7 linked regions of the Homo sapiens genome follow. The protein of the gene in region 1 purifies or fractionates together with the protein of each later gene. This does not show direct contact. Each region holds a gene or a part of one and is shown in the gene's direction. Other genes may lie near its edges. The genes, in order: KIR2DL1, STEAP3, PLCH1, UBE4A, PHLDB3, FAM114A1 and FAM114A2.

Region 1 (4,168 bases):
GTTATTTGCAAACTCTGTGCCATTTCATATAAGAGGCTTGAGCATCTACAGATTTTGGTATCTGAGTGGAGATCTCGAAACCAATCACCCACGAATAGTGAAGGATGACCGTATATGACTTTTATTTCTCAAATTTAAATATAAATCATAAAAAATGTACAACTAGATAAAAACTAAGAAGTGTTTTTATAGTGTGAGTTAGATTTATTTTTTCCTAGGTATAACCCATTGGTTTAATATTATTTATTGAGAAGACATTCTATGCCACCTTAAACCACACGGCAGCCTTTGTCAACTCTAAAGGGACTGTGTGTACACGGATGTACTTTAGACACTGTTTCTGCTAAGGGGCTCTCTGTGTCCACACTCTTGATGATGCTGCACTTTATGTAGCCTTATAGAACCCTTTAAATTTAGTAGCCAGAGCTCTCTAATTTGTTATTATAGGCTATTTGCTTTTTTTTCTTGAGGCGGAGTCTTGCTCTGTCGCCCAGGCTGGACTGCAGTGACACAATCTCAGCTCACTGCAACTTCTGCCTCCCAGGTTCAAGCGATTCTCATGCCTCAGCCTCTTGAGTAGCTGGCGTTACAGGTGCCTGCCACCAGGCACGGCTAATTTTTGGATTTTTAGCAGAGACACGGTTTCACTATATTGGCCAGGCTGCTCTCAAACTCCTTATCTCAGTTGATCCGCCCACCTCGGCTTCCCAACGTGCTGGGGAAACTTGATTTTCTATAGCATTATGTTACTGGATATTTCTGTAAAATTTAAAATGAGGGAGGGAGAGAGACAGACGGAAAACAAACTCCAGAGTTGGGACTCTGGAATCTTGGGTCATGAGACAAATTTTAGATTAAACTACAAAACTCCAGAATTTACAGGTGGGGTTTTTACTGATAAAGTACAATTCTAAGATTGTAAATAATTGCATAATCCTTCCCTGGGAATTTAAATCATTTTAACTGGTTCTGCTGTAATACTAGAAATACAAGCATGAAAAATTCTAATGGTTTATTAGTGACAATGACTCTGAAAACATTAATAATACCTATTAGATATTTTGCATATTACACAGGAAGAAGAGTTTGAATCTCAGATAAAAACAATAGAAATACATGAAAAGTCTTTCATGTTAGCACAGATTTTAGGCATCTCGTGTTCGGGAGGTTGGATCTCAGACGTGTTTTGAGTTGGTCATAGTGAAGGACACTAGGTGTCAAATTCTAGCGAGAACAATTTCCAGGAAGCCGTGTTCCGCTCTTGAGCGAGCACCCACTGGGCCTCATGCAAGGTAGAAAGAGCCTGCGTACGTCACCCTCCCATGATGTGGTCAACATGTAAACTGCATGGGCAGGGCGCCAAATAACATCCTGTGCGCTGCTGAGCTGAGCTCGGTCGCGGCTGCCTGTCTGCTCCGGCAGCACCATGTCGCTCTTGGTCGTCAGCATGGCGTGTGTTGGTGAGTCCTGGAAAGCAATAGAGGGAGGGAGTGAGGGGATGGAGATCTGGGCCCAGAGGTGGAGATATAGGCCTGGAGGTGGAGTTATGGGCCTGGAGTGGAGATCTGGGCCTGGAGTGGATATATGGGCCTAGAGATGGAGTGATGGGCCTAGAAGTGGAGATCTGGGCCCAGAGGTCGAGATATAGGCCTGGAGGTGGAGTGATGGGACTGTAGTGGAGATCTGGGCCTGGAGTGGAGATAGGAACCTGGAGGGGAGATAGGAACCTGGAGGGGAGATATGGGCCTGGAGGTGGAGATATGGGCCTGGAGTGGAGTCATGGGCCTGGAGGTGGAGTTATGGGCCTGCAGTAGAGATATGGGCCTGAAGTGGAGACATGGGCCTGGAGTGGAGATATGGGCCAGGAGTGGAGATATGGGCCTAGAGGTCGATATCTGGGCCTGGAGTGGAGATATGGGCCAGGAGTGGAGATATGGGCCTAGAGGTCGATATCTGGGCCTGGAGAGGAGATATGTGCCTAGGATGGAGATACGGGCCTGGGTGTGGAGATATGGGACTGGAGAGGATATATGGGCCTGGAGTGGAGATATGGGACTGGAGAGGAGATATGGACCTGGAGTGGAGATAAGGGCCTGGATTGGAGATATGGGCCCAGGGTGGAGATCTGAGCCTGGATTGGAGATATGGGCCTGGATTGGCGATATGGGCTTAGGGTGGAAATATCGGCCTGGAGTGGAGATATGGGCCTGGAGTGGAGATATGGGCTTGAGGTGGGGATATGGACCTGGAGGCTGGGTCTCTGCACAGCCGACAGCCCTGTTCTTGGGTGCAGGTAGGCACTGAGGGTGAGTTTACCTTCAGCCCAGGAAGGGCCTGGCTACCAAGACTCACAGCCCAGTGGGGGCAGCAAGGGTGCCCTGGTTTGCCTGCAGATGGGTCATCCATCATGATCTTTCTTTCCAGGGTTCTTCTTGCTGCAGGGGGCCTGGCCACATGAGGGTGAGTCCTTCTCCCAACCTTCGGGTGTCATCTCCCCACATAAGAGGATTTTCCTGAAATGGGAGGGAAGTCCTGTCAGGGAGTCTCTCATAAACTAGGAAGAAGGGACCCTGGGGTGCTGGGCCCACATTTCTGACCTTGCCTCCCTGGCCTTTCATTCCCTTGGCAGAGTCAAGTTCTGTGGGGACCAGGGTTAGACTACGGTGCTCAAAGCTGGGGTGTGTGGTGGGGAAGTGGTAGGAACAGCAGATCCTCTGAGGACAAAGGTGTTACTCACACACTTCAGCGTTTCCATGACGGTAGGGGCTGCAGTGTGGCTGCTGTCATTCTACCAGAAGAGGTGGGAAAACCACAGCCATGGCCCTGACATTCCAATCCTCTGATGGGGACTCAGTTGTTTATTTTCGTTCAGGCATCGGCTGATATTCCATTCTCAAAGGACATGCCCTCCACCCCATGTCTACCCTGTGTTGTTTTATGTGAGTAATCTTACAGTATTAAAATCTAGTAGGAGTCTCTTACTCAGCACTTGCTCAAAGTTCTCAGCTGACACTTTTGTTGTAGGGAGACACCTTGTGTTTGCGGGATGGGTCCTTCCTTTAGCCCTGGGCACCAAGGTGTGATAGCAGCCATAGAAACTTGGAAAGCGAGGAGAATCTTCAGAGCACAGGGAGGGAGGGGCGGCTCCACATCCTCCTCTCTAAGGCGGTGCCTCCTTCTCCCCACGGTGGTCAGGACAAGCCCTTGCTGTCTGCCTGGCCAAGCCCTGTGGTGCCTCCAGGACATGTGATTCTTCAGTGTCATTCTTATCTTGGGTTTAACAACTTCAGTCTGTAAAAGGAAGATGGGGTGCCTGTCCCTGAGCTCTACAACATAATATTCTGGAACAGCCTTTTCATGGGCCCTGTGACCCCAGCACACGCAGGGACCTATACATGTCGGGGTTCACAACCACACTACCCCAGTGGGTGGTCGGCACCCAGCAACCCCCTGGAGATCACGGTCACAGGTCAGAGGGCTCCTGTCTGGGATTCTCCTTGTCCCACCTCCTGAATCCCAGAGCTCCTGGTGGGCGTGTCCTTGCGGGTCCCATCATGCAAGTCCTGACTGTATTTGGGGTAAAGGGGGATTGAATACAGGGAAATGGGTGCTGTGGTGGGAAGAATAATTGTCCCCAGTGATGACTACATTCTAATCCCTGGAGTCTGTGACTATTTATGATATAGGGGAAGGGACTGAAGGAGAAGATGGAGCTCAGGTTGTTGATGAGTTGACCTTGAGATGGGGAGACAGCCTGGACTGTCCTGATGGGCTCAGTGTAGTCACAGGGGTCCACATGAAAGGAGGAGGAAGAGGGGAGTGGGGATTACAGCAGCATAATGGGAGTCTCCATCAGCTTTGAAGGTGGAGGAAGTCCAGGAGCCATGAATGCAGGTGGCCTATAGAGGCTGGAAAAGTCAAGGAACTGATTCTCCTGAGTCTCCAGAGGGAACGAAGCCCTGCAGGTGCCTTGATTTTACCCACGACAAACAGGGTCCGATTTCTGTCTCCAGAATTGGAAGGGGTTAGTGTGCTCTCTCCTGGTGCCATGCTTCTGATAATTTTCTACAGCAGCAACAGGAAACCAACACTGGAACCCAGGTCAAGGACAAGTTAAGAAACAACACAAGGATAGCCAGGCATGGTGGCAGGTGCATGTAATCCTAGC
Region 2 (3,500 bases), on another chromosome or scaffold:
GGAGCCAGGGCCCAGACAGGGTTAGTCACACCCTCACCTCAGGCCGCAGGGACAGGCCTCTGGGACTTCCAAGACATGTACCACCTGTCCTGCCCCCAACCCCTGCCAGCCTTCAGCAGGAGGGTTCATGCTGAGCATCAGGAGGGGGCAGAAGAATTGAACGTGGCCACTGTCCATGAAGAAGTTAGAGAAGAGTACACACAACACACATGCACACAAGAATAGGACACGTGCACACACACACACACATGCATACAAGATTAGGAAACACAAGTGCACACACAACCAGTCAGAAATGAGCTCTGAGCTTTTACACATATTAACTCATTTCATCCTCAAACAGTCTTTAGAGAGGTATAATTAGTGTTCCCGTTTTAAAGGTGAGGGAACTAAGGCACAGAGGAGCTATGTAACTCACCCAAAGGCACCCAGCTACTGGCATGTGAGGCCATGATTTCTCCCCAGCAGCCCCACCCACAGCCCGTGCCTTTAACCACCTGCCTGACCCCTCCCAGCCAAGTGGCTCCGTCCCTACATCAGAAAGGTCAAGGAAGAGGCCGCCTAGGGAGCAGTACAAGGCAGCATTACAACCTGGCATTTTCCTGTTGCAGACTGCATTTTGGTGGCAAGAGAAGCTTTGGAGGTGCTTAACGTTTAGTTTGCATTTATCCTACCGCTGAAAAGCAGGGACCCTTAGGACCATAAGTCTAGGACTTTTCATAGCACCCTAGACTGCTGGGGATGAAAGGGGCTTGGAGCTGAGCTGGTGCAGCAGCTCCTGTTAGAGAAGCCACCCAGAGAGGCCCAGGGACCTCCTATGTCCCAGCGCCAGTTAGGGGCAGACGTGGGACCAGCTCCCCTCGGCTGCAGCGGCCTCCATATCAGCTCCCTGGAAGGGAGCAGATGCCAAGTCAGGTTCTGAGCAACACCCTCAAGGCCCAGCCCTGGCAATCCCTTCCCACCTGTGATTAGGTCTGGGGTTCAACAAAAATAGGACTCAAAATCTGGATCTTCTCGCCTTGCTTCACTTTGGGCTGGTTCAGTTTTGTTTCGAGGTAAATCATTCGAGGTTTTTCAGGGATCCTCAGATGCATGTCTGCGTGAAGCCGTCCTGGCTTCCCCTTCGGCTGCCCCCTGGGCAAGAGCCTGGGCCATACCTGTGCCATTCCTGAGCTCTGTCTCTAGCTGCCCTATGTCCAGTCATTGGCGATGGGTCTTATTCAAGCCCCCTTTCCCCCAACCCACACTAGATTGTAAGCCCTCAGGGTGGGGACCGCTTCTCACTCATCCTTATATGCTTAGGAGTGTTCAGCACAAAGTCACTCAGGAGATGGCAGGCAGCGGGGAGAGGGCAGAGACAGAGGAGAGGCTTCTGTCCAGAGGGTTCCTACTTAGGATCATCCAAATCATCAGCAAATGTTGGAAAGATGGTCTGGGGGCCTCAGGCTGGCTACTCTTCCTCCCCATCAGGGCAAAACTCCCCGGGGGCTTGTGTCTCCCTGTGGTTGGGGACAGGCCTGGGTGTATCTGTCCCAGCCTTGACTGACCACAAGGGGAGACTTGGCCCTCCCGACCACAGGAGAAGAGGGATTTGAATTCACCTCGGCCCAAATTGCAGATGCTGGCCTGCGAGCCCTGAGGCCATCTGCAAGGCTCCTGGGCTGACATAACTGTCACCCAGCTCTTCATCCTCCTTCCCCGGGGCTGAAGGGGTGCCTGCAGGGTCTTCTGCCCTCCCTCCACCTGGGCCCTACTGCTGGCACGGAGCTTCATTTCTGTTGGCAGCCAGTGTTTGCTTAGTGATTACTGAATGCCGTTTGCTGGGTGCTTATGATGTGCTCAGCACTGTTCTAAGTGCTTTACACAATTGACTTATTTACTCCTACAACCTGCCCATAAGGGAAGTGCTGCCATGGTCTCCCTTTTATAGCTGAGAAAACTGAGGCACAGATAGGTCCATGGTCACACAGTTAACATAAGGCAGAGTCAGGACCAGAATCCAGGCGGACTGGCTCCAGAGCCCGGCTCCTGGACCGAGCAGCCTTGAGTAGGGACCTGGTGCAGACCCGCCTGCCGTGGACTCACTATAGGATGGGTCAGGAGGCCCGTTGTCACCTACAAAATGTAGCCCACCACCCAGGAAACGCTCCCAGAACCAGGCAGAAAATACTGTCTCCTATTCACAGGGTGGCTGTGCCTGGCGTGAGTGTCTTGGCGGGTGCCTGCATGTCTGTGCAGGAGTGCCACCCCCATCTGTGGACTCGGAAAGCATGATCCCCACAAAAGCAACCCCTCAGAGTCTCAGCTCAGCCAATCCCTGTTATCCTGTGACAGGCAGGGCCATGTTTCAAAACCATGTTAAAGATGAGCAAGAGGCTAAGGAAGTTTCCCATGCTGGCAGAGGCAGGACAGGAACACATGTCCCCTGACTCTTGACATTGAGAATGCACCCCCTTCCACCCACCTGGCCTCTTGTCCCAGCCAGTGTGGTCCCAGCTATGCAGCTCTCTGGGACATCTCTGGAAAGCTCATTGTTCTCTGTCTGGGCAGTAAGACGGAGTGAGGCTCTGACTGCCGAGGCAGACAGACCTGCCTCCTGCTCTTCCTCCCCTCAATTATTTGTGCTGCCTGAAACAAGTTCCTGAGCCTCCCTGAGCCTCAGTTCCCTCCTCTGTAAAGTGGGAATGATAACTGAATCTACTTCCTGGGGTTCTTGTGAGGACCAGAGGCCCATCACCCGAGGAAAGGCCTGACAGCAGCAATGGGTGTATGGTAGGCATCCATTAATAGGAACTGCTGCTGCTGCTGCTGCCTTATAAAAGGAAAAATCACAGTTTCAAAAACCTCTTAAGATTGCATGATTTGTCATCTGAGAGCAGAGATTGTGATCTCCATTGACAAAGATGGAAGCTGGGGCCCAGGGAGGCACACAGACTTGTCTGAAGACACACAGCTGCTTCATAGCAGAGCCGGGCCCAGCCTCCTGGTTCCCCTGCCCCATCTTTATGTCAGTCCCTGGATCCACTCCCTCACCTGGTCAGGTGTCCAGAGGTTCCAGGAGAGTGTTGTGGAAAAGTAGGAAGAGGCAGACGCCCATGGAGGGTGTTGAAAGCCACCCCAGCTGCTCTGCTGCTTCAGGGCAGGGGATCTTAAGCCCTGTGGAACTGTAGGCTGGTGAAGCTTGTGGACTTCTGCTCAGAATAATGTTCTTACATGCACCAGACAAAATAGCTTAGGGTTACAAATGAAATATATTATATGGAAACACAGCGAAAATATTTTTTAAAAAAGACTACAGTAGCATTAGGCATGCTTCTTTATTAGCACATTAAATGACAAGCTCTAGTGGCAGATCTAATGTCTACCATAATTTTATTTTTACTTTTATTATTATTATTATTATTATTATTATTATTATTATTATTATTTTGAGATAGTCTTGCTCTGTCACCCAAACTGGAGTTCAGTGGTGCGATCACTTCAGTCTTCAACTCCTGGGC
Region 3 (3,500 bases), on another chromosome or scaffold:
CAGTCCGGCCTGGGCGACAGAGCGAGACTCCGTCTCAAAAAAAAAAAAAAAAAAAAAACAAACTTGAGCCAGAAATAAATTAAAATCTGAAAGTGTTCTATATCACCTCCATCTTCTCTGCTAAATAAATGTCCATTTATGAGTCATACTCTTTATTCCTTTCAAGATGTGTTCGGGTTGGGATCCACACATCACAGTGTAGTGGATATTGGTTGAACAATGAATGAGCATAAGACTAAAAATCCCCAAAACTAAGAGAAAGGGTTTATAGACATGTATGCATTTTTTCTTTTGTGTTTACTTGTGACACCCTCTTCAATGAGCCCCAATTGTGTTTTGTTGTGTTTTGTTTTTTTCCTTTACAGTGGAGCCCTTTAATACTCAACCCCAGTTATACTATATTGCACTTTCTAGGAGCTACAAAGGTAGTTTCTCAGCATGGTGCTTTGTTCTGGCTGGCATATTTCTTTTTAAGTGGTTATGGCAGCATGCTTTTTCATATCACTCCATCTTCCTGCTTACCACTTTGAAACATGCATCTGTTGCTTTAAGGCGCCTGAAGTTCATAGCAGTCTATGAGCTGTGGAGACTTTTCCTACCACTTTGTCATCTCTGGGTAGGAAACTTCTGGGAAAGCTTGATGTAAGAATGGAAGGCTGAAGTCCTTGCAAAGTAAGGTTGATAAGATGTGCATGAAGTTGTGCAAACATGCTGTGAGCTGCTGCTTTCTTGGTTTGAATATATTTCAATGGCTGTACGATTTTGGTTTATATTCATTTTTCATGGAGCTGTCATTTTCAAGGCAAGTTGTTGATGTGATGGCATTTGCTTAACTTGTGGTTGGTTCTTTTGTGTCTTCAGAACAGACAACTCCAGGGTCTGAAGGGACTGTTCAATAAGAATCCTAGGCACAGTTCTTCAGAAAACAATTCCCATTATGTACGGAAGCGATCCATTGGAGATAGAATTCTGCGACGCACAGCTAGCGCCCCAGCCAAAGGCAGGAAAAAGAGCAAAATGGGCTTCCAAGAAATGGTGGAGATAAAGGATTCTGTGTCCGAGGCCACAAGAGATCAAGATGGCGTGCTGAGGAGGACCACACGCAGTTTGCAAGCACGCCCTGTCTCTATGCCTGTTGACAGAAACCTTCTGGGAGCTTTGTCGCTGCCTGTATCTGAAACAGCAAAAGACATTGAAGGAAAAGAAAACTCTCTAGGTAAGATGCTTTAAGTTTCTCTGAGAATAAACCCTTCTAGGCTGCATGTCAGTCCCTGTTTACCATTATGAAGTGGCTGACATTCTGTAGTCAAAGTAAAATATACTGAAAAATAAATACTTTGTAATGTGATCTTCCAGACCAGAAGATTTTAAACTTTGGGGGCCAGGTAGATCCATTTCCTCCTCACCAAGAGCTTCATAATATCAACATCTGAAATTGACAGTGAGGGATAGGGGAGCCATTAGGTGTGATGGCACAGAGAGGAAGATGAAACCTGCAAAATAGGATTTGAAATATTGATTTTCCAAATGAGTGCCATATTTACTGATTTGTTTTGAGGGTGAATATAGTTGTATTACTTTTCTTACCATATAACACATTTCCATGATTGGAAATGTTTATGGAGAAAGAAAGCCAGATGTTAAAAACGAGCCACCTTTTTCAAAAACAGGCAAATCTTTTTTCTCAAGATGTGGCTCAGGCAGTGTTTTCCTGTGGCCTCACTTCCCTGATCCTTGGATGCTGACAGAGATAGAGGTGTGCCTGCAGCTTCAGCACGGTTGTGGGCTCCACAAGCATAGGGACCAGGTGCTGCCTGTCTTTTTCCTTAATTTGAGTGTATCATTGACTCATATCAGGAGCTCAATAAAGAGTGAAGACCGCCTTGCAGTGTGCCAGAGAATTTTTGACTGATGTTGGTGACTCCCAACCCATCCTATCTGGGGGTAAATTTAAGCGCCAAAACTGTGTGCATTTGATATCTCTGCAACAAATATGTTTTAATTAAATCAGAATCATCTCAGACAAGTAAAATGTGGTACTGATTTCCTTTAGCAAAATTATTCTTTTAACTTTTATCAAATGGTCTAATTTCAGTGCTCTCTTTTCCCACAAACACCATTTTACTTGTATTGATTTTTGTTACAAGATATTCTTCAGTGGTTTATTTGAAGGAGAAAAAGAACATTTAAAAGCTTGAAATTTTGCTAAGAGCAGTGTCAGAGAAGAGATAAAACATGTGCCTTAAAATGTATTTTAAAACCCCATCTTTGGGAAAAATAAAGCTATATTCAGTAGAAATTGGTTCTATCTGTTAATGCCACAGTTAAGATGTTAATACCATTAAGGTGAGTTAGAAAGCAATTTTGAGGTAATGTTTCTTGTCTACTTTTAAAAAACAGTTATATAAATTAGTCATGTGTATTAAAGTTTCGGTAAATATAAAACAATACATAGTTATGTTGCATTAAGTACAGAAAAAGCAGACTACAAAATTCTATATATTATTCTGTTCCTCTGCAAAATCTTACAGTGGCTGTCTCAGTGGTAACATCATATGGTATTTAATTTTTTCTTTATAATTTTTTGAGGTTTTCAAAATTTTTATGATGAATATTTTTAGTTTGGAAACTATTTAATAACAAGTTGAACAAGTTCTTTTTCTTATATATCATGACTCTGAAAGCATTAAATTATTAAAATAATCTGATGAAGAATTGAATACCTCATACTCTCCTAGCAGTATACTAACCATGATGGGCTATCCCAAATTACTGTGAATTGTGTTTTTATGGTTTTCCTTTACTGTGCCTGACAACTTACTGCCACTTTTAGGGAAGGATGCAATATGAAATTTGTGTATTAAAAAGAAATATATGATTAACAAAAAATTAGATATTAGCAATGACATGGAATTGATGACCAATTTTTATCTTTACATTTTAACTCAACAGATATTGATATTTTAATGCATTTATTGCACCTTCCAATTATTTTAGAAATTAATTGACTAAATTAAATATGCTCCCAAAATGTTTTGAAAATGATATTATTATGTTTTTCTTCTTTTCTTCTTTTTTTGTTTTAACTAATACATGTATAACTTTGAAAGCTTATAGTATCTTGCTTACAGGTACCACAATGCTTTGTTTAACAGAGCTGTCTTGTTCTGTTTCTATTGCCATGCTTCTGTGTAGTACAAATCTGAATAGGAAACAACTTAAGGTAATCCTCACTGTAAAAGTATGGTAACTCATTGACATTTTTTTGACAATGAATATTACATCCTTAGCAGATGTAATAGATATTCAAAGGGAAGCTCCAGTGAAATTCCTATAAATATATTTTACCATTTATTCATCACACAGACACTTTGTTGCAAACCTATGCAATCCATAATTATATTCTGTCACAGTGTAACAGATTTACATTCTCCATTTGTCTGTCCGAAGACAACATGAGTGTTTGCAGGTCCTACATAAAGTGATAGATGTCACCTAAA
Region 4 (3,500 bases), on another chromosome or scaffold:
TCTCTTCCATTGACCAACCCTCTGGTGATCAGTTTTTTTCTGATGCTAATGTTCCAGGGATGAGGAGAATTTCTGTGCCACTGTGCCCAAGGATGGACGTTCCTATTCCCCAACTCTCTTTGCACAGACAGTTCGAGTCTTGAAGAAAATAAATAAGCCTGGGAATATGATTATGGCTTTCAGCAACTTGGCAGAGAGAATCAAGGTGAGGAAGAGGAGGAATTGTTTGCTGATTTCATTAAGAACCACGTTGTCAGCCAGGCATGATGGCTCAAGCCTGTAGTCCCAGCTACTTAAGAGCCTAAGGCTAGAGGATCACTTAAGCCCAGGAGTTTGAAGCTGCAGTGTGCTATGATCATGCCTGTGGATAGCCACTACACTCCAGCCTTGGCAAGATAGCAAGACCCCATCTCCTAAAAATCCATGCAAAAAAAATCAGATTGTCACCTCAGCTGTGCTGATTTTTACTCTATTTCAGGGAGAAAAAGAGCATTACCAAGAGAAAATATAAACAGATGGTTCTTTTTGGACAGTCACTTAGAACTACAATATTCTTAGTTTTATTCTTGTCAACATGAGAGTGAGAATAGAAATTTAAGAAATCGGCTGGGTACAGTAGTGGCTCATGCTTGTAATCCCAGCATTTTGGGAAGCCAGGGTGGGCAGATCACTTGAGGTCAGGAGTTCAACACCAGCCTGGCCAGCATGGTGAAACCCTGTCTCTACTAAAAATACAAAAATTAGCTGGGTGTGGTGGCAGGCGCCTGTAATCCCAGCTACTCGGGAGGCTGAGGCAGGAGAATCGCTTGAACCTGGGAGGCGGAGGTTGCAGTGATCGCAACCACTGCACTCCAGCCTGGGCAACAGAGCGAGATTCCATCTCAAAAAAAAAAAAAGAAAAAAGAAATTTAAGGGCCAGGCGCGGTGGCTCACGCCTGTAATCCTAGCACTTTGGGAGGTCGAGGCGGGCAGATCACAAGGTCAGGAGATAGCGACCATCCTGGCTAACACGGTGAAACCCCATCTCTACTAAAAATACAAAAAATTAGCCGGGCGTGGTGGCAGGCACCTGTAGTCCCAGCTACTCAGGAGACTGAGGCAGGAGAATGGCGTGAACCCAGGAAGCAGAGCTTGCAGTGAGCCAAGATAGTGCCACTGCACTCCCGCCTGGGCAAAAGAGCGAGACTCCATCTCAAAAAAGAAAAAAAAAAAAATTTAAGAAACCTCAACTAGAAGAGAAGAATGTGCACATTTATGTAAGATGTTTTTATGAAAACGTTTATGCACAGTGTTACCAATAGATTTTAAAAGCTAGGGTGTTAATGCAGAATAACTTTTTAGAAAAAAAAAAAGATGAGTAGTTTTCAGTCATTAATTTTTATTTGGATTGTCTCTATGTTTGTAGTTGGTAGTTGGCTTTTATTGGAATATGCATACATTTTAAAGATTAAAATACTATATTGTATTTAGCTAAATCCCTTTGGTTAGAGTATGACAGAGCTCTATTAGCAGGTAAGAAGAAGGAAGATCATGGCACAAAAGTCTAATAGAAAACCTTCCTTATTGCTGTCAGTCTTCCCTCTATTGAGTTTCTTTTTTATTGAGTTGGACTTCATCTTTGTTTAGAGCTTAGCCAGGTGGATCCCTGAGGAACTCAAGTTGTGAAGGAATTAAATGTCAAAATGACTTTAAAATTCCTATACCTGTTTGTATCAAAAATCAAAAACTGCTTTTCATACGCAGGCTGCATGAGTGACTCTAATTATGCAAATAATACCCTCCTCCATTCTCCCTTCTCCATCCACTTTTGAATTATGGCATTTACAACAGAACTGTTGCCAGATGGATGTTATATCTGATGTATTTCTTTTCCTCCTAACATTTAAACCCATTTCCAGTATGACTGCCAGCAGCTGAGCCAACCTAAAGGTCCAGAGTTGGGGCTCAATGCTTAATTTGTTCTTAGAATATCTTGGCTTGTTTTTGAGAAAATGAAGCTCACGTGTGTCACTGTCACTGTCAAGGGTTATTAATGACCTGTTTTTTTATTTTTGAGATGGAGTCTTGCTCTGTCATTGAGCACGCTGAATTCAGCTACACTGTGAATTCACTTTAACTACCAGATGTTGTATACTCAGTCTCTTGCAGACCTCCAACAACAGGAAGAGGAAACCTATGCAGATGCCTGTGATGAGTTCCTGGATCCCATTATGAGCACACTGATGTGTGACCCTGTGGTGCTGCCATCTTCCAGAGTCACTGTGGATAGATCCACCATTGCAAGACATTTGCTCAGGTAGGCCAGTCCCAAAAACAGACTCAAGAGCATATATATATATTAGTTTGCTATCTTTTTCTCCCAGGCACCTAAGACAGTACTTTGCACCCAACACATACCACATATTATTGATTTACTGATATGTTGGAAGACATTTTGGTTTCAATTGCTAGGATATAAACATTTCAAAACAAAACATTCTGTTGAGAAATGCTAACTCTAACCTCACCTCTTCCTGCCTTAAGAAAATAATTTCTGGCCGGGTGCAGTGGCTCATGCCTGTAATCCCAGCACTTTGGGAGGCCGAGGCAGGTGGATCACTTGAGGTCAGGAGTTTGAGACCAGCCTGGCCAACATGGTAAAACCCCGTCTCTACTAAAATACAAAAAATTAGAGGGGCATGGTGGTGCGCACATGTAGTCTGAGCTACTCAGGAGGCTGAGGCAGAAGAATTGCTTGAACCCAGGAGGCAGAGGTTGCAATGAGCCGAGATCGCACCACTGCACTCCAGCCTGGGCTCAGGTGATCCTCCTACCTCAGCCTCTGGAGTAACTGGGACTACAGGCATGCACTAACACGCCCAACTAATTTTTGTATTTTTTGTAGAGACAGGGTTTCACCATGTTGCCCAGGCTGGTCTTGAACTCCTGGGTTCAAGCGATCCAACCGCCTCAGCCTCCCAAAGTACTGGGATTACGGGTGTGAGCCACTGTGCCTGGCCTGTTTTTTTATTTTTGCGACAGAGTCTCGCTCTGTCACCAAGGCTAGAGTGCAGTGGCGCGATCTCAGCTCACTGCAAGCTCCGCCTCCCAGGATCAAGTGATTCTTCAGCCTCAGCCTCCCGAATAGCTGAGACTACAGGTGAGCACCACCACATCTGGCTAATTTTTGTATTTGTAATAGAGATGAGGTTTCACCATATTGGCCAGGCTGGTCTTAAACTCCTGATTTCAAGTGATCCTCCCACCTCAGCCTCCCAAAGTGCTGGGATTATAGGCATGAGCCACCTCACCCAGCCTGCTTTTTCTAATTCAGGTTTTACACTATATTCACCATGTGGATTAACTCACGTTCTGTTGCTGTTGTTGTATCAGCTGTGGTAACCATGAACTTTCCCCAGCCTGCCTATTCTTCGGACAGTCTGCCCCATTATAACTATAGAAAAGACAGGAATGAAGCAATAAATGGTAGCTTATTAGCTGCTTAATGGGCCCCTTAACTT
Region 5 (3,072 bases), about 11 Mb from region 1:
ACATCTGTGAAACGGAGATAAATGTACTTACCCCTTCAGGAGAGTTTGAGGGGGCAGAGATTATACCTAGAAAGTACTTAGCAGAGGATTATATTCATTAATTTCATCACAACAATAATAATGTAAACAAGCTCTCTCTTTCTTTTTTATTTTTGAGACAGGGTCTCACTCAATCACCCAGGCTGGAGTGCAGTGGTGCAATCATAGCTCAATGCAATTTCGATCTCCTGGGCTCAAGTGATCCTCCTGGGCTCAGCCTCCTTAGTAGCTGGAACTACAGGTGTGCAGCACTAGGCCCAGCTAATTTTTTGGATTTTTAGTAGAGATGGGGTCTCACTATATTGCCCAGGCTGGTCTCCAACTCATAGCCTCAAGTGATCCTCCCACTTCAGCTTCCCAAAGTGCTGAGATTACAGGCATGAGCCACTGCACATAGCTTCTCTTCTCTCTCTCCTTTTTTTTTTTTTTTTTTTTTTTTTTTTAAATAGAGAAGGGGTCTTCTGTGTTGCCCAGGCTGGTTTCCAACTTCTGGGATCAAGGGATCCTCCCACCGCAGCCTCCTGAGTAGCTGGAATTACAGGCTTAAGCCACCACACAGGCTCCAATCTTCATTTCTTTTTTCCAAAAAAAATTTTTTTTTTTCAGAGACAGGATCTCACTATGTTGCCCAGGCTGCCCTTGAATTCTTAGGCCTAAGGGATCCTCCTACCTCAGCCTCCCAAAGTTCTGAGATTACAGGCATAAGCCACCACACCCGGCCCGATCTTTATTTCTTTTGATAGGCCTCTGATGTTTCAGGGTGAGCTCTAGGGTCAGAAATACCTGGGTTCGTGTCCCAGTTCTGCTGCCTAGAAGCTCTGTGTGACCTCGGGTGCATTATGTCATCTCTCTGTACCTCATTTTGCTCATTTGTAAAATGGGGCTCACAGTTGCCATGAAGTGCCAAGGAGCTGATGTCCATAAAGTCCTGGGCAGAGCATCACAGTCAATCCACGTAGCCGTTGCATTTGTCAGATGGTCCTAGTTAATATTACCCTCTAAAGGCTGTAGCGGGCCTTACATGCAAGCTGCTATGACTTGCTCCCCTCGAGGGGCTCCAGGCTGTAGAATCCCCCGCCCCTTACATCAGCTGCCCCGTCTCTTTGCTCCCCAGGCCCCACCCACCCCACCCCACCCTCCAGGCCCGCGAATCTTGGATCTCCGGCAGCATCTGGAGGGATGGGGCCACAACCCGGAAAACTGCCCACATGTGCAGGTGTCTGGGTGCTGCTGCCGTGGACCCCTGGTGAAGATGGGCGGCCGCATCAAGACCTGGAGGAAGCGATGGTTCTGCTTTGACCGCCAAGCCCGCCGCTTGGCCTACTATGCGGGTAAGCCCAGCCTGGCCACCATGGGCCCCAGGACGCTGGAATTCCACTCCGGAGGCCTTTCCTCTACAGGCACCAGAAGTCCTGGCCCCCACTTTCCATGTTCCCCAGGATCCAGAAGTTTGGTTCCCTAGCTCCTAACTTCCCTACAACCCAGGAGTCCAGGCTCCCAGCTCTCTCTCTCCTCCAGACCCTGGAATCCAGATCCCCAGCCCCTCTTTAAGCCACCCAGAATTCAAACCCCCAGTCCTCCTCAGGGACATAGATAACAGTTTAGTACAATTCAAGCTTCCCAGGGCCCATGTTCCTAAGACACCCATGAGTCTGAACCTGCACTGTCAGCTGCCCCCAGCCCCCCAATGGCCAGGAGTCTGGGGCCCTTGTCCTTCTTCTCTAGGAGAATCAATTATTCCAAACCTCTCCTTGGACACTTTTTTTTGTTTTTGTTTTTGTTTTTGTTTTTTGGAGACAGAGTCTTGCTCTGTCGCCCAGGCTGGAGTGCAGTGGTGCGATCTCAGCCCACTGCAACCTCCACCTCCCCGGCTCAAGCGATTCTCCTGCCTCAGCCTCCTGAATAGGCGGGACTACAGGCTCATGCCACCACACCTGGCTAATTTTTTGTATTTTTAGTAGAGACAGGGTTTCACTGTGTTAGCCAGGATGGTCTCGATCTCCTGACCTTGTGATCTGCCTGCCTCAGCCTCCTAAAGTGCTGGGATTACAGGCTTGAGCCACTGCACCCAGCCTCCTTGGACGCTTGTATTGTCTCAAATCCTTCTTCCCTAACCTGTATGACCATTTGACTCTACTTGGTGAGTCCTGGCTCTGTCAGCTCTGGCTGTGTGACTTGTGCTGGGTGCCTTAACTTCTCTGAGTCTTGGTTTCCACATCTGTCAGATGGAGATAAATGTACTTACCCCTCCAGGAGAGTTTGAGAGGGTTAGAGATTATACCTAGAAAGCACTTGAGCACTCCCTGAGTTCCTTCCCTTCTCAGAGGCCGAGCATTCAGGGCCTAGGATTCCAGCTCCACAGACCCCACTCCCCAATCATGTCCAGTTTCTGTGCCCAGTCTCCCATCCAGCGTTAACATTCACTCACCTCCCAACCTTTAGAGACCTTCAGACTCTTGTCACCATGTTTCTTACCCAAATCCAGTCTCAGGACTTAGGGCCAATGACCCTCACCTCGACACACACAGACACACCTTTCTCACTGGCTCTCTTTTTCTCTTACCTCCCCTACCAGACAAGGAAGAGACCAAGCTCAAAGGTGTCATCTACTTCCAGGCCATTGAGGAAGTCTATTATGACCACTTACGCTGTGCCTTCAAGGTGAAGCCCCTCAATGTCACCCTGACCTCCCAGTTGGAGACTCAGTTGGAGTCAGGCCTTATCTCATCCCTGGCTCATCCTGGGGAAAGCCACCCGCAGCTTCTCCTGTCAGGGTACTCATAGGAGTACGTGTTTGTCGCAGAGAAAACAAACAGGTCACCTGACTGCAGGGACTAAAAATTAAGAGCCCAGACTCTGGCCTTCAGCCACTGTTAATTTTCTTCTTTTTTTTTTTTTTTAAGACAGAGTCTCATTCTGTCGCCCAGGCCTGAGTACAGTGGCGCCATCTCGGCTCACTGCAACCTCCGCCTCCCTGGTTCAAGCAATTCTCCTGCCTCAGCCTCCTGAGTAGCTGGGATTACAGGCACCGTG
Region 6 (2,717 bases), on another chromosome or scaffold:
ATATCCAGACCAGTTGTTTGAAAGCACAGCCGTGACCTGGCCAGACTCCATCTAGTTAAAGGAGACAGCTGGCCGCCTTGCCTCAATATGTACCATTTAAGGGGATGTTCTCTGTGCGCCTGGCCACAGACATCCATTTGAGGACACTACAAGCAATTTTGCACAGACAATATTGAGAATGCAAATTTAGAGAGAGTTATCATTTCTCTCAATGTGTATAATTGTTTTTACAAACAATTGTGTTTTCTTTATGTTAATTTAAACTTACACAGCTTATATTGAAAATTTCCTTTCATCTGAAATTTATTTACAAATATTCGTGTTCATTTTCCTGGTTAAGCATGCTATATTTAGAAACTCATGGGGAGACCTTAGACTTTTGTTTAATCCTTTATGTTTCAACCTTTAAATGTTCCATTCTTATAGTATTACTTTAAATCAATTCTAAAACTGAACTTTGTTTTGTTACATAAATGTCGCAGGCAAAAATAACACTACTTATAGATTTTACCTATTATGGTAAAAAATAGGAACATATTGTCATTCTTTTTTTTTTTTTTTTTTTGAGACAGAGTCTCACTCTGTCGCCAGGCTGGAGTGCGTTGGCACAATCTCGGCTCACTGCAACCTCCGCCTCCTGGGTTCAATCGATTCTCCTGCCTCAGCCTCCTGAGTAGCTGGGACTACAGGTGTGTGCCACCACGCCCAGCCAATTTTTTTTGTATTTTTAGTAGAGACAGGGTTTCACCATGTTGGCCAGGATGGTCTCGATCTCCTGACCTCGTGATCTGCCCGCCTCAGCCTCCCAAAGTGCTGGGATTACAGGCTTGAGCCACCGCGCCCGGCCGGTCATTCATTCTTGCAACAAGCATTTATTGAGCACCTACTGTGTGCTCACAGTAAAGAAACGTGATCTTATCCCAGTAGAGGTAGATATTCTGAAAAAGAATAATTCTTAAACTGCTTAAAACAGGGGTCCCCACCCCCAGGCCACAGACCAGTACCAGTCCGTGGCACTGGTTAGGAACCAGGCCACACAGCAGGGGGTGAGCGGTGGGTGAGTGAGCACAGCTTCATCTGTATTTACAGCTGCTCCCCAGAGCTTGCATTACTGCCTGAGCTCTGCCTCCCGTCAGGTCAGCAGCAGCATTAGAGTCTCATGGGAGTGCGAACCCTGTTGTGAACTGCACATGCGAGGGATCTAGGTTGTGCACTCCTTATGAGAATCTAATGCCTGATGAATCTAATGCCTCATGATCTGAGGTTGAATAGCTTCGTGCCGAAACCATCCCCCACCCCCATCCCGCTACCCCGAGTCCGTGAAAAAATTGTCTTCCATGAAACCGGTCCCTGGTACCAGAAAGGTTGGGGACCACTGGCTTAAAATACCAATAAATTTTTGAACCTTAAAAACTTTGAAGAACAAGGTAAATTGGTGTTTTATTTAATGTCCTACCCTTTAATTTGTTGCATTTTCCTATACTCTTTACACTATTTTATCCCAAACTATGTATATGAGGTGAAAATATATATGAAAAGGGATACTGAAGAATATTTAGTTTAAAATTAATTTCTTACGATCACGAGCACATGGTGGCATAATTACAAAGCTTGGAAGTATTCAAATAGAAAATCAAAGGTGTTTCAATACAGTAGAATCCCAGGACTGCATTTTAAAATCGCCTCACAGATCACACTCGCTGGTGGCAAATATCATCATCGTTGCTAAAGGACAGAAAATACTGATGTGTGTTTTAACTAACTGGTATATTGATCCATGGGAGGCTGCACAGAAGACCCTGCGGCCAGGAGGGGCATTGTCAGTGGCTGCTTCTCCTGAGCTCCACGCCTTCATTGCAGCTGCATGTTCGATACAATACACCTGCTTCACAGCCCCATGGACATCCCTACAGGTACTGTCATGTGAAGCCTTGCCTAGTAGTTCTCTCCAGGGCAAATGAAGCTCACAGTTTTGCAAGGTGGAAACCTCTTATTCACATTTGCTTTGATTCCCCGATGGAGTAGACTGCCTTTGTTCCATACAGGCAAAGTAAGGATATTTTAATATCATCCTACTTCTTATTAGCATTTCATTTGTCTATGTACTGTATTTCATTTGTATGTCTCCTGAAACATCCAAATAGAGAACATAAGAACACTTTATGTACAATCTGGAAAAAAATTACCTGAGAAATCAATTAAAGATTTTTCCCCTTTTCTGATTGCCAGAAATGTTTTTATTAAGTCTAGAGAATGATTAACTGATGAAAATGTTGCATTTACCTCTTCATCAATTTTAGACTTTTTATGTGTAGGGCAGAGGAAATGATATAGATTTACAATTTCTTCACATCAGTTTTTTGTTGTTTTTTGTTGTTTTGTTTTTTGCATCAGATGGGTTTAGATATTAAGTGGAAATGTAAAAGAGAAACAAGTGGCAGGGCTCAGTGGCTCACACCTGTAATCCCAGCACTTTGGGAGGCTGAGGTGGGCGGATTACCTGAGGTCAGGAGTTCGAGAGCAGCCTGGCAGACATGGTAAAACCCTGTCTCCACTAAAAATACAAAAAAATTAGCCGGATGTGGTGGGTCGCGCCTGTAGTCCCAGCTACTCGGGAGGCTGAGGCAGGAGAATCGTTTGAGCCTGGCTGGCAGAGGTTGCAGTGAGCCAAGATACACCACTGCACTCCAGTCTGGGCGGCAGAGGGAGATCCCGTC
Region 7 (3,500 bases), on another chromosome or scaffold:
AGAGGGCCATGTTTTAAGAAGGGCTTTGAAAAACTGGGTGAATCCAGAAAAGAGTCAGCTAGATAGTGTGAATCAAAAAGTGTCTGAGACAGGTCTCAATCAAGTTAGAGGTTTATTTTGCTAAGTTTGAGGATGCACCTGGGAAAAAGGAACACAAACCACAGAAACAATCTACCTTCCATACTTTTTTTGAAGAGGGTCTGGTGACTTCAATATTTAAAGGAAGAAGAGTGGGCTCTAGGGGAAAGAGGAAGTAAAGAAAGGGGAGGGTAGATAAGAGGGGCAAGTGGTTGCCTTCTTTTGAATCTTTGATCAGTGTTCACTGAATCCACATTTTACGTGTAAAAGGAAAGAGCAGAGGTAGAGTCAATTATGTATTTGTCTTATGCTCAGTAAATTGGCAGTTTACATGAAATAAAGTAAACGTAGAGTAGCTACCTGTGGAAACATCTGGCCTTCTGTCTGGCCTTTCTGCTTAGGAACAAAAGGAAAGACAGTTTTTGTGTAACTTAGCTTTCAGCTTAACTGTTCCCTTTGGCATAGTAAATTTGGGGTCCTGAGTTTTATTTTCTTTCACAATAGTGAAATGTCTAGAATTAAAGTCTTACAAGAGAAAGTCTTATAAGAGATTGAATCTGGTAATCTGGAGAAGGGAGATTGGGAGAATATCCTGGTCTTTTTCTGAAGACTAGCATGGAGAAGAGGATTAGGTTTATTATTCATGGTTTATGGGGAGAACTAGTAACTAGTACCACTCAGTGGAAGTTATATAGAGTTAAGTTTTAGTTTAATAAAGAGTTTAACAGGGAGAACTTTCCAAAATTACAATGGACTGCCTTTTGATACTAAACCCCTTCTATCTTCTAAAGTTCCTGAGGAAGGAGGTTAATTCCTCTGCCAAGGATGTGTCTTGTAGTCAACATGTATATTTTCAGAATTTTGAGATAAGCATAGGCCATTGATGGAAATCATTGATCATCTATTAGGGATTTTGTTTTCTTCCTTTAAAGGGGGCTATCTTCTGCTTTCCTTTTGTCGGCGGGCAGTTAAGGTATTTGCAACTTAAATTGATGCTTTAAGGCTTTTTTTTTTTTTTTTGGAGAGGGAGTCTCACTCTGTCGCCCAGGCTGAAGTACAGTGGTGCGATCTCAGCTCACTGCAGCCTCTGCCTCTTGGGTTCAAGTTCTTCTCCTGCCTCAGCCTCCCAAATAGCTGGGATTGCAAGCATGGGCCACCATGCCTGGCTAATTTTTGTACTTTTAATAGAGGTGAGGTTTTGCTGTGTTGGCCAGGCTGGTCTCAAACTCCTGACCTCAAGTGATCCTCTTGCCTCGGCCTCCCAAAGTGCTGGGATTACAGGTATAAGCTGCTGTGTCTGGCCAAGACTTTTTGTAAAGCTTGTTTAGGGTGAGTCTATAGTGGCCTTTACTCTAACTAAGTACTGTTTATCTCTGCTGCTAAGGCTTGACTCTTCCGAAGTCTCCACCTTAATTCCCAGGTGTTTAATATAAAGTCTCTGCTTTTGTGGTTGGAGGTCAAATGTCTCTCAGCCTAGCGTGAGCTCTGGGGATTGCTTAGCTTAGAGCTCCATGGTAGTTCTTTGTACAGACTTATGGAGCCTCCCAGTGCCTCAGCAGTGCAGTATTTAAGCAAAAACACCTAAAGGTGTCTTAGGGCATGCCTATGCGGATTCTTAGAACTTTTTAGCTATGTAGCTTCCTCCTCTACGGTTTTCTGACCTGCAAATTCCGATTGCTTCAGCATTCCCAGATTCCAGTCTCCGTTTCTTCCACTCAAACTGATTGCCATGCCCTACTTGGGTTTCTCCTCCCTCTGTCATGGCCTGGAAAGCTCCTCTATACAGAAAGCCAAGCCAATTGTAAGGTTTACTTTGTTGTTCTTCTTGTGTGAACCGAAGTCTTGTACTGCCTATTGTCCTATGTCTGAAGACAGTTGCTTCTTATATATTGTCCAGTTTTTCAGTTGTTGTGGCAGGAGGTCATATCTAATACCAGTTAATCCATCATGCTAGAAGTGGAAGTCCTCTCTATAATATTTGATAATACTGAAATTATTTGGTATAATGGTTGTTCTCCTATGTGAAATTTTTAAGTTAATGGATTTTTGTTTTGAAACATACCTATCTTTGTAATGTATGTCTGTTTGATTTCTACTAATCATAATTTTCTAGGATAAAATTTAAAATAGACTGGATTTTTAAAAATCAGGTTTATCAAATTATAATTTACACACAGTAAAATTTATTCTTTTTAGGTGTACAGTTTTACATGTTTTGATCAGTATATATACTTCTGTTTATACTGTGTAATCATAGTACACTGTGATTATACAGATATAGAAAACATTCTATATAGAATGATCAATACAGATATATAGAATGTTTCCTATATCTGTATTGATAATTGAGACATAAGAAAATTTTTATTACCCCAAAAAGGTTCTCTCACGTCCTTTTGTAGTCACTGTTCTCCTTACTCTCAGTTCTTAGCAATTACTGATCTGTTTTCTGACCTTACAGTTTGACCTTGTCCAGAAGATTATATAATTGGAATCATACAACATATAGGCTGTTGTATATATCAGCAGTTTGTTTACAAAACTGGATTTTATTTTCGAAATGAAAAGAAAATGAAAACTGCCTATCTTAGCTTTCATTTTAAAATAAGCAAATGGTTTAAAATGATAAAAAGGGCTAAGGCCTAGTATGTAGTAAGCAGGGTCTAGTTTTAAAAAATTCACATAGATGCTAATAAAGCCTGAGAGTTAAGGGACCTTCCCTTCATGTTTACACATCCCCTCCCTCTTGTAGGAGAGACAAATGCCAAAGAGAATGAAAACTCCTCCCCAGTGGCTGGGGCATTTGGTGTATTCTCTACCATCTCTACTGCTGTTCAGAGCACAGTAAGTAAAAAAGTGCAAGGTGGTCTGTTCCTTTCCATTATTATAATGGGTTTGCATATCTTTCTCTCTCTTTTCTTTGAACAGCCATGTGGACTGATTACTTTTAAAGGAGTCCAAGCCACTGAAGATCGGTCACTTTGGTCTTATGGGTGGAGTGAATGCTACTTGAAAACTTTCATTAAAGCAATAAGGAAGAAAGTAGGAAATAAAGGAGTAGCAATAAATAAGGGAGTAGGAGTTACAGAGAGGCAATATACGTATTATTTTATGGATTAGGAATTCTTAATTTGGTGGCCCTAAAAAATGTCTACTTTACAAAAATATTTTTCTCATAGTTGCATCTTTTAGGCAAAGGGGAAATGTGATCTTTATGACAGATATTTGCAAAACTATGTATGATTAAAAACATTTGTAAGAGGATTATCTAGGAAGCTAAATATCTTTGCTACATGAGGATAGATAGCTAGTTTTTTTTAAATTTTAACTTTTTATTGAAATATACATACAGAAGAATGTAACAAGTGTTGTTTGAATTTTCAGTGTGAAACACCCAGAGTAAGAAACAGTATTACCGTAAT

The links.
Region 2: the proteins of KIR2DL1 (region 1) and STEAP3 purify together in Homo sapiens (affinity purification with mass spectrometry; one large-scale study listed by BioGRID and IntAct). This does not show direct contact.
Region 3: the proteins of KIR2DL1 (region 1) and PLCH1 purify together in Homo sapiens (affinity purification with mass spectrometry; one large-scale study listed by BioGRID and IntAct). This does not show direct contact.
Region 4: the proteins of KIR2DL1 (region 1) and UBE4A purify together in Homo sapiens (affinity purification with mass spectrometry; one large-scale study listed by BioGRID and IntAct). This does not show direct contact.
Region 5: the proteins of KIR2DL1 (region 1) and PHLDB3 purify together in Homo sapiens (affinity purification with mass spectrometry; one large-scale study listed by BioGRID and IntAct). This does not show direct contact.
Region 6: the proteins of KIR2DL1 (region 1) and FAM114A1 purify together in Homo sapiens (affinity purification with mass spectrometry; one large-scale study listed by BioGRID and IntAct). This does not show direct contact.
Region 7: the proteins of KIR2DL1 (region 1) and FAM114A2 purify together in Homo sapiens (affinity purification with mass spectrometry; one large-scale study listed by BioGRID and IntAct). This does not show direct contact.

The regions. Positions count from the first base shown.
Region 1 is NC_000019.10:54,768,425-54,772,592, forward strand, and holds the start of KIR2DL1 (killer cell immunoglobulin-like receptor 2DL1 precursor), read left to right. Parts: upstream 1-1,368; 5' UTR 1,369-1,426; coding exon 1,427-1,460; exon of another isoform or gene 1,461-1,467; intron 1,468-2,245; exon of another isoform or gene 2,246-2,424; coding exon 2,425-2,460; exon of another isoform or gene 2,461-2,513; intron 2,514-2,597; exon of another isoform or gene 2,598-2,640; intron 2,641-4,168. UniProt on the Homo sapiens protein: Receptor on natural killer (NK) cells for some HLA-C alleles such as w4 and w6. Inhibits the activity of NK cells thus preventing cell lysis.
Region 2 is NC_000002.12:119,240,834-119,244,333, forward strand, and holds part of STEAP3 (metalloreductase STEAP3), read left to right. Parts: intron 1-3,500.
Region 3 is NC_000003.12:155,483,072-155,486,571, reverse strand, and holds part of PLCH1 (1-phosphatidylinositol 4,5-bisphosphate phosphodiesterase eta-1), read left to right. Parts: intron 1-365; coding exon of another isoform or gene 366-425; intron 426-522; exon of another isoform or gene 523-769; intron 770-861; coding exon 862-1,216; intron 1,217-3,195; coding exon of another isoform or gene 3,196-3,206; exon of another isoform or gene 3,207-3,223; intron 3,224-3,500. UniProt on the Homo sapiens protein: The production of the second messenger molecules diacylglycerol (DAG) and inositol 1,4,5-trisphosphate (IP3) is mediated by calcium-activated phosphatidylinositol-specific phospholipase C enzymes.
Region 4 is NC_000011.10:118,390,600-118,394,099, forward strand, and holds part of UBE4A (ubiquitin conjugation factor E4 A), read left to right. Parts: intron 1-57; coding exon 58-205; intron 206-2,138; coding exon 2,139-2,296; intron 2,297-3,500.
Region 5 is NC_000019.10:43,477,675-43,480,746, reverse strand, and holds part of PHLDB3 (pleckstrin homology-like domain family B member 3), read left to right. Parts: intron 1-1,153; coding exon 1,154-1,370; intron 1,371-2,614; coding exon 2,615-2,700; intron 2,701-3,072.
Region 6 is NC_000004.12:38,943,523-38,946,239, forward strand, and holds the end of FAM114A1 (protein NOXP20), read left to right. Parts: coding exon 1-35; 3' UTR 36-2,217; downstream 2,218-2,717. UniProt on the Homo sapiens protein: May play a role in neuronal cell development.
Region 7 is NC_000005.10:154,028,911-154,032,410, reverse strand, and holds part of FAM114A2 (protein FAM114A2), read left to right. Parts: intron 1-2,830; coding exon 2,831-2,922; intron 2,923-3,500.